Homo sapiens: one gene and its partner. The protein of the gene in region 1 purifies or fractionates together with the protein of each later gene. This does not show direct contact. Each region holds a gene or a part of one and is shown in the gene's direction. Other genes may lie near its edges. The genes, in order: AMD1 and FARSB.

Region 1 (3,825 bases):
TTAATGCTTATAGTATATATTGTGATGGGCCTTGCTGGGGGATACTGGACTAAACAGCCCCTCCCCCCCTTTTTTTTTCTGAGGCGGAGTCTCAGTCTGTCCAGGCTGGAGTGCATTGGCGCAATCTCCTCTCACTGCAACCTCTGCCGCCCAGGTTCAAGCGATTTTCTTGCCTCAGCCTCCCAAGTAGCTGGTATTACAGGCGCCTGCCACTGTGCCCGGCTAATTTTTGTATTTTTAGTAGAGACGGGGTTTCATCATCTTGGCCAGGCTGGTCTTGAACTCCTGACGTGGTGATCCACCTCGGCCGCCTAAAGTGCTGGGATTACAGGTGTGAGCCACTGTGCCTGGCCTCTCTCTTTTTTTTTTTTAAACTAAGTTTATATTATGAATATACGAATGTTTATCAAAATGCTTACCATGTGCCAAGCCCTGGGGATGTTTTGTATACTAGAAAAGGAAAAGAATAATGTGTTACTTGCTTCCTTGAGATCCTAATATTTAAAAGTACTAGCCAAAATTGTAAATGATAATTAAATTGGTTGATTGCACCCTCAGTAGTACATTAGTATTGTTATAATATTGTGACTTTTTTCAACTGCAGTGAGAGTAGCATGTTTGTCTCCAAGAGACGTTTCATTTTGAAGACATGTGGTACCACCCTCTTGCTGAAAGCACTGGTTCCCCTGTTGAAGCTTGCTAGGGATTACAGTGGGTTTGACTCAATTCAAGTAAGTAAGCAAACATTTAAATATTTTTCAGGCATAAATGTTAGCGTTCTTATCCTGTAATATGCGAAGTAAATAAATTTATATACTTACTGCCTTTGTTACAATGCATGCAAACACGTGGTAAGGTGTTCATACCTTAGGAAGAGATCTGATTCTCAAGAACAGCAGAAAATAGGAAGCAGAGAATGAGTTAGGATGAAATTCAAATGGGAGAAAGAAATGAAGAAGCCAGACACTTCCAGTAGTTAATTTCTTAACATGGCTACTTATAATAATAGAGAAATGGTAAGAAAAGAAGGAAAAGCAAGAAAAATGTCGTTACTGAAATTGTCCAGTCTTTATAATGAAGAGTTAGGATGAAGAGCAACAGTCAGTATTGAGTTAAATTCTTATACTTTTCAAGAACTAAGGTGTTTTTACCTAGGGTATAATTTTCTGATTAGCAGTTGTTACATTTTATTTATTTTTTATTTTTTTGAGATGGAGTTTCGCTCTTGTTTCCCAGGCTGGAATGCAATAGCACGATCTCAGCTCACTGCAATCTGCACCTCCCAGGTTCAAGTGATTCTCCTGCCTCAGCCTCCCAAGTAGCTGGGATCACAGGTGCCCACCACCATGCCTGGCTAATTTTTTTTGTATTTTTAGTAGAGACGGTGTTTCACCATGTTGGCCAGGCTGGTCTCTTAACTCCTGACCTCAGGTGTTCCACCCACCTCAGTCTCCTAAAGTGCTGGGATTGCAGGCGTGAGCCACTGCACCCGGCCTGAATTTTAATCTTTAACTTCATAAGGAAAGGATGGATTGTCATTAGTACTCAATACAGTTTTTGTTGTTATGAATTGATCCTTGTAAGAAATCTAAAGCAATGTGTGCTTAACCGATGCTTAAAACTAATATGTTATTCCCCCCAAATTTTTGCTTATATGACTATTAATAAGCTCAGTTTAGAAACTACTGTTCTAGAAAGGAATATACTTGGTGTTAATAGTTGTTATGACCCATCATCACTAGACTGGGCTTTTTAAAAAAAAGAGAGAGAGAGAGAGATGGGGCCTCAGTATGTTGCCCAGGCTGGACTCCTGGGCCAAGTGATCCTCCTGCCTCCTAATAGCGAGACTACAGGCATATGCTACCATGCCAAGCTAAAATATTTGAGTTTTGATTTTGCCGAGTTTTTGATATGTGGACAATAGTTGATTAGCTTCGAAAAGTGATAGAATTCTACATCTAAAGTCATCTTTTTTTTTCTTTCTTTTCTTTTTTAATAAAGAGCTTCTTTTATTCTCGTAAGAATTTCATGAAGCCTTCTCACCAAGGGTACCCACACCGGAATTTCCAGGAAGAAATAGAGTTTCTTAATGCAATTTTCCCAAGTAAGTTTAAATAAAATATAAACCTGTTGTCTTCTTAAAGATAGAAAGTGCAACCTCAGAGATCTTTCTATATGAGAGCATACTTATGCATATATAGCATTCTACACACACTAATACTTGCTTTTCTTGTGGGTTTTTTGGTTTGTTTTAGACAGGGGTCTCATTCTGTCACCCATGCTGGTGCAGTGGTGTGATCACAGCTCACTGCAGCCTCAACATCCCAGGCTTAAGTGATCCTCCCACCTTAGCCTCCCAAGTAGCTGGGGCTACAGATGTTTGCCACCCCACCTGGCTAATTTTTTTTTAATTTTTAGTAAAGACAAGGTTTTGCCATATTGCCCAGGCCGGTCTTGAACGCCTGGGCTCAAGGGATCCACCTGCCTTGGCCTCCCAAAGTGCTAGGATTACAAGTGTGAGTTACTGCACCTGGTCCATATTTACTTTGACTTAGATGTTTTGGGAGTACAGTAGTGATCTTTATATAGCTTGTAATTCAAAATATGCAGAATTTATAAAGAACATTAAAATATCAGATAAAATATTTTTAGTTAAGATTAATAGCTTATTGCAAATTATGTATACACATGTAAAAATAATTGTGTATCATAAATCAGTGCTGTTTAAATGATGGAATTTTAAAATGTAGAATTGATCACCTGCCACCTCTGATTTTTCATACAGCATAGAGAGAGTTCATCTTCATCTGGCCATTCACTCTACTTTATGTCTCACTCAGTGGTTCTTTTTGCGTTTTTGTTTGAGACAAGTTTCACTTTGTCTCCCAGGCTGGAGAGCAGTGGCATCATTATAGCTCACTGCATTGTCAAACTCTTGAGTTCAAGCACCCAGCTAATTTTTATTTTATTTTTAGTAGAGATGGAATCTTGCTGTGTTGCCCAGGCTGGTCTTGAACTCCTGCCCTCTAGCAGTCCTCCAGCCTCAGTGGTTCTTAACATACAGATCATAATGTCCTTTGACAATATGAAGAAGGATATGATTCCCTTCAGAAAAATGCCTAGTGCTCTGCTCCAGCATTTTATATAATAATTGACCTGGCTTTTTAAAATTGCACAGTGTAAATTAGTGTTTCTTGAATGAAATTCGTAAGGGTTTCTTTCATCCATTTACTAAGCTTTTATTTATAGAGGTCAGGGAACAAAGGTTATCTGATAACATCCTTACTTCCTAGATAAGGCTGAAAACCTAAGATAATTTAGTAACTTTGCACAAAGTCGCTCATAAGCATGAAAATTGAACTTAGCACATCTACTAATATGAAACCAAACCAGGCTAATCAGAGTGTTGGGTATTTACTGCAAATACCCGCCAAGTCAGTCGATCCTGCTTATCTGGGAATTTACCTACTGTTTCCATTCCTTTCACTGATGACATTTCTTTTTTCTTGAGATGGCGTCTCGCTTTGTCACCCAGGCTGGAGTGGAGTGGCGTGATCTTGGCTCACTGCAACCTCCGCCTCCCGGGTTCAAGCAGTTCTCCTGCCTCAGCCTCCCAAGTAGCTGGGATTATAGGCATGTGCCAACACGCCCAGCTACTTTTTGTATTTTTAGTAGCGATGGGGTTTCATCATGTTGGCCAGGCTCGAACTCTTGACCTCAAGCCCACCTCTGCCTCCCTGCCAAAAGGGGTGGGATTATAGACATGAGCTACTATGCCCAGTCCACTGATGGATGACATTTCTAATAAGTGGCAAATAGTATCAT
Region 2 (3,825 bases), on another chromosome or scaffold:
GTTAAAGACATGCCTGAATGGATTCTTGGTGTCTGTAGTGACTCTCCTCCCACAAGGAGGAAGAGTCAACCAATTTTAGTACAGGATGGATTATGGAGAATTTGGTAATCTAGTCGGAATAATTATATTGTATTGGGCCATAAGGAAATTATTCTGCTGCCAAAAGTAACACCTAGTAAGATTGGCATTTTTTTAGACTGTGAAATGAATGAGGTTTCCTTTTATAATTTGAATGATAGATCTCTTCTCTGTACTTTTAATGATGATTTTACAGGAGAACTTTGGCCTTATTTTTATACTGGAACTGACTCAAAACCTCTTAAAATTTCTACAGTAACAGATTCTGTATTTTCTTTCACCTAGTAGACATAACTGAGCCAGTTAATCTAGTTTTGGCCATTCTGTATTTTGTCCAGTTTTTCTCATAAAAAAACAATATTTTTTATCTCAATTTCAGCAACTTCCAAAAAATGTGATTATGGGACCTACTTTATAATAAATTATGGGGTCAATGACAAAGTACTTTAGAAATTCTATGGTAAAATACTTGAAAAATATATTACTGAAGGAACGTATTATGTAAGAAAATCTATTACTTTTGTAATTGCCAATAAAAGCCCAATTTTTTTCTCAAAAAAAAAAAAAGACATACTTTAATTTAAAAGATAATTTTCTGATAGTTAGTATTATTTTTTTCCTAAGCCTTCTATCTTCACCTATTCAGTGCTTTTATAACACTACCTTAGGTGTAAAGTTAAAAAATGTTCAGGCTAAAAAATTGTACATTATCTTACCTTATTTTTCCTGCTGCCTTACTAATGTTACAGAAAGATCATCTTTGTACTAATCTATTTGTATACTTGAGAAATTGGCTGAGATTTCTGTAGTTTATAAGTTGCTATTCGTAATTTTACTACACCTCAGAATTATGTTTGAAATTATGTGATATCTAAGAGTGTTGGACTGGATGTTAGATTATTTGAGTTCTAGTTCTAACATTTACTAGCTGTGTAACTATGGACAATTACTTTGCCTGTCTGAACTCTATAGTCCAGACGAGTCTCTCTGGGCCTCCTTTTCATTTGTGAAATAAGGGGTTTGGATTATATGATCTTTATGGTTTTCTTTTTTGACTCTGAAATTTATGTGATTTTAAATTTCTGTAAGATTATTGTCAGGTAGCACTGACAAATTCAGTCTTTACATATGGTCATTGTATGAGCTGAGATGCTGAAACTGAAAGAAGATGTAAGCTTCTGTGTCTTTTTTTTTTTTTGCAAAGGAATTAGATCTTTTTTTACAGTAGTTCCTCCTTATCCACAGTTTTTTGCCTCCACAGTTTTGGTTACCTGCAGCAAACTGTGGTTTGAAAATAGGTGAGTATAGTACAATAAGAAATTCTGAGACAGAAAGAGACTACATTCACATTACTCTTATTATAGTATATTATTTTAATTGTTCTATTTTATTATTAGTTGTTAATCTCTTACTGTGCCTAATTTATAAATTAAACTTTTTCATAGGTATGTATGTATAGGAAGAAACATGGTATATGTAACATTTAGTCCTATCCAATGTTTCAGGCATCCACTGGGGAGCTTGAAACATATCCCCTGTGGATAAGGGGGTGCTGCTGAAAAATGAATGCAGATGCCTTCATTTCTCCGGTTATTATATTATCTTCTCTGTATATAGGTCCCTCCTGAGATCTGCCATCTCCTGGGAGGTGACTCAGCTTTCTTCACTATTGAAACAGTAATTTTATTAACCCCTTTGATTGAACATTGTTTAAACTCGAATTCTTCCTCTTCTCTTTTTGCCTCTCCCCATTCCCCTTCTTTTCTTTTCCCCCTTTTTACTCCTTCCTCCTCCTCTTCATTCTCTTGTTTTTCATTTTTCATTTTCCCTAATTATAAAAATTTGCCTCCTAAGTTTGAGATGCCCAAGGTAGAGGTTTTTTGGAGCCCAGCACCACCTTGTACAGCCCCAGCATTGCATAGACTCCTGTGGTTCCTCAGGTGGGACTTTGGCACATAATACTCGTGGCCAGAAGTGAATTTCTCTGCATATTGTGCAAATGTGGATATAATTCTTAATTTGGACAAAAATTTGAACTACTTATATTGTGGCAGTGGGAGGGCATCATGTAAAACAAAAATCATTACATATTTTGATAGAAATCCATCAGTTATTTTAGCAGGTTGTTGGTGGTGGAAATAGTAGGAATTCTGGTTAAGTGGAGTTTCCACATAATTAAAGCGTAACATTAACAGTTGGAATACAACTTGTAATCATTTCAAGTGAAAATTTCTTAAATATATTTACAGTTCCCTGCTGTAGTAAACATAAGGAATAGAGTGTAACTTCTCTGCAGTGGTTATGTTTAAGAAAATCTGTTACTCTGCTGTAGTGTGGTGCTTGAGATATTCTAAACTCTTTGCCACTGCATTAAACGTGATTCTAGTGGTGTTTCTTCTGTCATCTCCCTCTTGGCTGCCTTCATTCTGCTGCACTATCCCTTTGCTATCACTAGTTTGCTTCCCATTGTACCTATTATCCCTTCTAATTTTTACCAGTGTCTGATGGTCTCTGACTGTTTTTAGTTTTTATACTACCCCTCTCATTCTCATGTGGACTTGGGTGCCCACAGGATTTAGGTTTTAGAGTCATCCTATAAGAAGTTGTGTTTCTTTTATTTAGTGAATCATCTTTCTTTTACCCCTTTGACACTTTTGTTGTTGTTACTTTATGTTCTTGGTGATGTTTTAATTTTCTTTTAGCTTGAGATGGGAAAACTTTTTCTGTAAAGGGCCAGATAGTAAATATTTAGGCTTTTTGGCTCTATAGTCTCTGTTACAACTCAGCTATTGCAGTGTGTAAGTAGCAGTAGATAATATGTAAATGAATGGGTCTGTCTGTGTTCCAATAAATCTTTATTTACAAAAACAAGTATCAGGTATGATTTGGCCAGGGGGCTATTGCTTGCTGACCCTTGTTTAGATGGATTTGTGCTTTTCTGGGGTGATTGAGGTTGCCAGATATCTGAACTCAGTTAAAGCTGAAGTATTTTTCTGTCTGCTATGATTATAACACTTAATATTTTCATGTTGTTTTTGTCGTGGATATAATAATCCCATGTTCTTGTTATAGAAAATATGTATAATGTAGTTACTGCCTTATAGGGCTGACAACTTTTACTTTTTAAAGAGAGTTTAAATTATTTAATTTTTATCATTACTTTTTGGCTTGTTTTAGACATCTGAGAAGGAAATAATAAGTAAAGAACAAGGTAATGTAAAGGCAGCAGGAGCCTCTGATGTTGTTCTTTACAAAATTGACGTCCCTGCCAATAGATATGATCTCCTGTGTCTGGAAGGATTGGTTCGAGGACTTCAGGTCTTCAAAGAAAGGTAAGGAAATATGTTCCTTAAAGACTTTGCTAAGTTGGGTTTTCTTTTCTTTCCTTGTCATTATCAGCAGCCATGTTTAAATTTCTAGGAAAAAGCTTGTAGAGGAACGTAGCTTTAGCTCTCAATAGAGGGTTGATTTGAGGAATTAGATTCATGCAGATTGTAGCCATTTGAAAATTTCCATGAAAATTTTAGTCATAGCCATTCATCTTTGAGAACATATTTTAAAACTGGTGTTTAATGCTTTTATGGCGTCTTAAAAAATTATTTAGCAGGTGTGTGTGATTCCCCTCCGTGATCTAATTGGAATGAGTAGTTCACTGGATGTGTTAAAAGTTGAGAGGAAATGGAGAGCTAGCAATAAATACCCTTACATTATGAGTTCTAAGGAAGCTCAGGAGTGAAGCCTCCTAAC

What was found.
Region 2: the proteins of AMD1 (region 1) and FARSB purify together in Homo sapiens (affinity purification with mass spectrometry; one large-scale study listed by BioGRID and IntAct). This does not show direct contact.

The regions. Positions count from the first base shown.
Region 1 is NC_000006.12:110,888,253-110,892,077, forward strand, and holds part of AMD1 (S-adenosylmethionine decarboxylase proenzyme), read left to right. Parts: intron 1-83; exon of another isoform or gene 84-154; intron 155-604; coding exon 605-731; intron 732-2,001; coding exon 2,002-2,104; intron 2,105-3,825.
Region 2 is NC_000002.12:222,642,436-222,646,260, reverse strand, and holds part of FARSB (phenylalanine--tRNA ligase beta subunit), read left to right. Parts: exon of another isoform or gene 1-639; intron 640-1,339; exon of another isoform or gene 1,340-1,376; intron 1,377-3,255; coding exon 3,256-3,410; intron 3,411-3,825.